Linked DNA regions of Homo sapiens: region 2 is linked to region 1. The links come from fine-mapping of genetic effects on gene expression. A gene starts in region 1. The other region holds a variant in brackets. All regions are shown on one strand. Distances are between the middles of the regions.

Region 1 (2,796 bases):
GCAGTGGCCTGTGGAGGCGTGTGTTTGCACCAGATCCCCTAGAGGATCACTGTCCCCTGGGCAAGTGTTTCTGGAAAGCCAAGGTAGGCCCTGCCCTGAGACCTGCGCCTCCCCGCCAGGGCAATGGGAAAGCCCAGCTTTCCAGGGACTCCACTGCCACCCACACAAAACCCTCTGAAATCGCTGTTCGGAGGCAGCCTCCAGCCATGCGGCCCTGCAGCAGGGGGCAGCTGTGATCCACGTGTCTGGGGGAAAGTGTAGACTGGGGGCTCGGCCTCCACCGGCCTCTCCTGGCCGTGGGTGTACCCACCCAGGATGGCGGCTTCTTCGCTCAGTGACCGTCCCTGCTGCGGTGCTGGGCAGTGTCGCTTGGAGACATTTGTGGTCCCCAGCTCCTTCCCTCAGCCCGGCCCTGTCCCCACTGCTGAAAGAGCCTGGCTTGGATGGAGCTTGGCAGGCTCGGGAGTGGGCACCAGGGTGGGTCTGTGCCCTGAAACTCAGAAGCAGCCTGGAGGTGAGTGGAGTTGTAGGTGCTGTCCACAGCCAGCTGGCTTTGTCCAAGGAAACTGGGCCCATCATGGCCGGAAGCCCCACAGTGAGGGGGACTGTCCCAGGCAACCCTGCCTGCCCACCCTCCAGTTCCCACAGGGCCCCTCACAGAGAAGCCCACCCGCAGGGCTCCTGGGCCAGGCCAGGCTTGGTTCTGGATGCAGGAGGGGTTGAGGTAGGGCTGGGGGAGGAATGTGGAGTGTGCAGTAGGCTGTTCTTCCCACACGGCCCTGCCCCATGTAGGAAGAGGGAGGCGGGGAGGGGAGGGTGCTTGTGTGCAGTGGCTGTGCCGAGCCTTCCAGGACATGCAGGTGCCATCCTGGTCCCGGGGCTGCAGTGGGCGCACTCAGCCTCTCTACTCCTGGCACCCCGGACAGGGACTCCTGGGAGGACACAGCCTCTGGGAAGTCACCCTGCTCCGTGCTTGCCTGGCCCGAGAGTGGGCAACACCAGGCCTGAGCTGCAGAGGAGCTGGATTTTGTCTTTCCAGGACCCCTCCCTGCAGCCTTTCCAGGACCCCTGTCCTGCCTTGCCTGTCTGGGGACACACGGACAGCCGCTGTGCCGCGCCAGGCCCCAGCACCTGCCTGGGAGCTCCTGAGTGAGTGGAGCCTGGCTCTGAGTGCTGCTATTGCTAAAAGAGGTAAGACTGGGGTTTCCTGCCACTCCCTCCCTCAGGAAGGTGACGAGGCCATGCTGTCATCACCAGTAAGATACCCCAGCCCGGTTGGCTAACCCCTAGCTCAGCCCTGTTTGTGGTTAGGGGAGTTCTAGACAGAACATAATTAGACCCCTGCTACTTCCTGAAACCTCAGCTAGGACTGCAGGGAGGGGTGCGAGGCTAGCCACGCAGGCGGGGCCCTGGGTAAGTCGCTGGGCTCTGCGTGCTGGGGAGTGGGCCTGGGGGGCCAGGCTCTGGGATGGGGCTGGGGGCTGGGAGCTGGAGGCGGGCAGAGGGGGATCTGAAGGCAAAGGTGATTTGTTGGTAAAGATGGAGGCTTTGTTGAGGGTTCTTAATCTGGGGTCCCTCCCGAGAGAACCCAGGACCCCCAGTGACCACAGATGTGATGGGGCCGGAGGATTTGGGGGAGAGGGACAACAGTTTCCATTGTATCTTTGTCACCGCCACCTTCCTGGAGACTTTCTTCTGGAAAAGGCTTCCCTGGCTACTGGTCCAGATGGGGGTGAGTCAGGGGGCTGGACTTTGTCCCTGGAATCTCTCCTTGGCCACTTGCTTCCGTGATTGGTCGGGGGGCACTGAAGGGCTGGGCTTCTCTCTGTGGGGCCTGTGCTGCTTGTGGGGTTACACAGAGGGAAAAGCAGGGCAGTGGGGGCTGTGCTGCGGTGAGTGGCAGTTGGCCCAGTCACGTGACAAGATCCTGGAGCTGGGCAGGTCACCGGCCTTTGGAGTGGCGTTCGGCGCACCAGGCACAGCGGGGCGGGGGGCCCAATACCTTCTGTCAAGTGCATGACGTGGGTCTGTACCACTGCAAGGGACTGGGACTGACCACTGAAGACTGGCCAGTTGGGCTGAGCACAAAATGATATTTCAGGAGATTGGCCAGGCCGAGGTGGGAGAGCAGAGGCTCCTGGAAGAAGATGAGGATAGGGGCTGGGCACGGTGGTTCATGCCTGTAATCCCAGCACTTTGGGAGGCCGAGGTGGGCGGATCACTTGAGGTCAGGAGTTTGAGACCAGCCTGACCAACATGGTGATACCCTGTCTCTACTAAAAATACAAAAATTAGCCGGGCGTGTTGGCACACGTCTGTAATCCCAGCTACTTGGGAGGCCGAGGCAGGAGAATCGCTTGAACCTGAGAGGCGGAGCTTGCAGTGAGCCGAGATCGCGCCATTGCACTCTAGCCTGGGCAACACTATCAAATTGGGAAAAATAAGAAAGTTGACAATGGGCTTTGGATGGGTGTGGTGGAGCAGGGAGGTTGGAGCTGGTGACTCCACATTTCCCTCCCTAGGGTTTGTCTCAAACGTGACGGCAGAAAAGAGGTCATAGGTTTGCCTGGTGCCAAAGCAGGTGGGAGTAAAAGACGGAAATGGCTAGGAATGGCCAGCAACCGTGAAACAGCTTAGAAATTACAGGCAATCCAGCCAGGTGCGGTGGCTTACGCCTGTAATCCCAGCACTTTGGGAGGCCAAGGCAGGTGGATCACCTGAGGTCAGGAGTTCGAGACCAGCGTAACCAATATGGTGAAACCCTGTCTCTACTAAAAATACAAAATTAGCCGGGCG
Region 2 (2,796 bases), 150 kb before region 1:
AGCCACGCAGGGGTGGGCCATGCATGGGTGTGGGCAGCTGAGCCACACAGGGATGTGGGCAGCCGCTCCCTCCGAGCTTGTCTCCTCCTCACTCTGTGGTCACTCGGGCTGCTTTGACCCTCGGGGTCTTCCTCTAGCCCATGCAGATCAGTCTGTCCTCATGCCTGAGCGTCCCACTCTGGGGACAGGCAGAGGGGCCAGTGTGGGCTGTGGGCCCCAGCGCCCATATCTGGAAGGGGGACAAAGTGGGGGCCCACCAGATGAGCTGCCCTCTTGCCTGCTTACAGGCCCCAGGATCCCCCCAGGCTGGGCTGGGGCCGAGCTTCAGCCAAGCGGGGTCAGCAGGTGCTGGCGCGGCTGCGAGAGGGAGCAGCCTGAGCCCAACAGTGGGTTTGCGTGAACAATGGGCCGCAGCGCCCCACATCCTCAGGCCCCTGGCTGGGGACCCCCGTACAGGCCAAAGCCATGGCCGAGGTGATGCCAGGTGGGAGCTTGTTCTCCAGGCGCTCTCAGGCCCTCCCGTGTGGCCTGGCTGCCTCAGGTTCACACAGGATACTGCGTGGAAGAGGGGGAAGCCCTTGAGACAGGCCCCCAGCTAGCCCGCAGACCCCAGGAGCCCTTGCGGTTCTGCACTCATGAACACTACGCACCCTCTCTCCAGCCGGGTTCTGCAGGAGTAGGGAGCTTTCTGGCCCCCCAGGGTGAGGCCTGGCACAGCTGCTTCCTGGTTCTGGAAAAGCTGGACTTGTCTGTCAGGACCTTGGGTCAGTGCAGCAGGACCTTGTGGCTTGAATTTCAGCCTGTCCTCAGTGCCAGGTGGGGGAGGGAGGGTGTGTCCCTGCAGGAAGCGCACCCTCCTAACAGCACCGCTCTCCCTGTAGCCCCGTATTCCTGCCCGCCAGCATCTGCTCCTCTCTAGCTAAGGTACAGTCTGCCAAAGTCAAAGAAACTGCCTCTTCCAGAGGTTGCAGTGGGCCGAGATCGCGTCACTGCACTCTAGCCTGGCGACAGAGCAAGATTCCGTCTCAGAAAAAAAAAAAAGAAAAAAACTACCTCTCCTTGAGCCAGCGGGGTCTCAGGGCCCTTCTCAATGGGGGCCTGCTGGCCTCACCTTCCAGAGCATGAATCTCCTGGGGACTTAGTCCCACCGGCCAAGATCAGGCCTCCCACCCAACTGCCAGGCCTGCCTCCTGGAGCGCCAGCCACTTCTGGAGAGACCACAGTGGGGTGTCTCATTGAGGTCAGCCTGCTGAGAAGCCCCGCTGCAGGGCCAGCTGCCATCCCCAGAGGCCCCCACTCCACTGCACAGTGGGCCTGGGGATGGGAGTGGGGAGGGCGGAGCAGCAGCTGTCAGGCTCCAGGAAGCAGGCTGGAGGCCTGGCCTGAGGATACAGCACCACCAGGAGCCCTGGTGTCCAGACTGTCTCCAGTCTGGAGAGGGACCACATGGGGAGCCCGGGGCCTCAGCCTGGCTCACACCTGCTATCAGCTTCACCCCGAGCAGAGCTCCACGTCTAGATGTTCTGCTAAGGTCCACCTGTCATGGGGTCCCTTCCCAGTGTCCCGAGGGTTCATCTGACACGTCAGAGCCAGGCAGGGCCCTGCCTCAGGCCCCCTACCGCCTCCCCACACAGCTGTGCCCTGGAGGGAAGGGCTCTGCCC[C/T]GCTGCGTCCTTCCCCACAGGCCCTGAGCCCTCTCATTGCCCGCCCGACAGCCCTGTGTGTCCGTGCTGGAGGTTGTGGGTAATGCCTGCGTCCTCTCCCCTGGGCCCCCCTGTCTCCCTGGGGGGACCAGCAGTCTCCAAGAAGACTTGGCATGTGGAAGGCACCTTTGGCCTTTGTGTGTGGCGGGCCGGCGAGCAGGCCCTGTGCAGGGTGTTGTCAGCAGATGTAGGGATTGCCCTGGGCCTGGTGAGGGTTGGGGAAGCACTCTCGGGTCTGACAGTGTCCCTTCACCCTCCCTCCCCTCCTCCCTGAGTGAGGTAGGGCACCAGGCAGCTCCTTGAGGGCTCAGGCACTGTTGGAAGGGGAGTGGGCTGGGGAGCGGGGCGTCTGCAGCTTCTGTGTTTGTGTCGAGTGCTGCTCGCTGTTGAGAATGTGAACGGGTCAGAGCTCTGTGTTGATGTGCAGTGAGCACTGATGGAGCACACAGAACCTGGACGCAGAACCAGGCTTCCAAAGGGACAGAGAAACAGTCAATTAACACTGGGAAAGGGAAGATGGGCAAAAGGGAACAAGTGGGCAGGCGTTCGGGAGCCTGGGCTGAGGCCGCCATGCTGTGCTTCCTTTTGCAGGTTGAGGCCTCTGGTGTCTACGCAGCCAGCAAAGAAGGTGGCCACGGGAGAGGTGTGTTGTCCCACGCAGCCAGGGCAGGGAGACCTTGGGAGGCAGCCCACTTCTTCCTGGGCCCAGATGCTTGGTCTGTGACCACAGGGAGAGCAGGCCTGACAGAGGCGCCTGCCCCTGCTGCCCCATACTTGCCTGGCATGGCCAGAGAATCGAGGCCCGAGGGTGGGAGCTCCCGGTTGCCGGAGCAGGAGCGGGCAGGAAGTGGGGACCGTTGTGTGCCTGCTGCTCAGCGCTCGGGCCAAGGCTGAGCAGCCTTGCTGTGGGCCTGGTGCCTGCAGGGAGCCTGTATGTAGGAAGCAGGCACTGCCAGGTCACAGGGCCCAGCCCTCCAGGGCTCAGGGGTCTTTCACCTGGACTGTCACTTGTTGGGGACTGGTCTGGCCCAGGAAACGAGGGTGAAGGTGCTGGCAGGTGGCGGGGGCTGGGGCAGGGGCCGGAGCAGAGCCTCT

What was found. PIP is the estimated chance that this variant, and not a neighbour inherited with it, causes the effect. A credible set is the group of variants that fine-mapping cannot tell apart.
Region 2: its variant is the best candidate, but not a certain one, in a credible set for the expression of GPR132 in thyroid (GTEx, PIP 0.56).

The regions. Positions count from the first base shown.
Region 1 is chr14:105,063,996-105,066,791 of GRCh38, reverse strand. GPR132 (G protein-coupled receptor 132) reads left to right here and starts at 1,362. Exons shown (of 4, transcript NM_013345.4): 1 at 1,362-1,413. RefSeq lists enhancers at 214-283, 494-663, 339-856, 2,534-2,673, 2,784-2,796.
Region 2 is chr14:105,211,661-105,214,456 of GRCh38, reverse strand. It overlaps BRF1 (BRF1 general transcription factor IIIB subunit), which reads left to right. Exons shown (of 18, transcript NM_001519.4): 16 at 2,293-2,344. Among named protein-coding and RNA genes, the nearest start is that of NUDT14, 32 kb to the right of the region's middle. The variant C/T (reference allele first, on the strand shown) is at 1,663.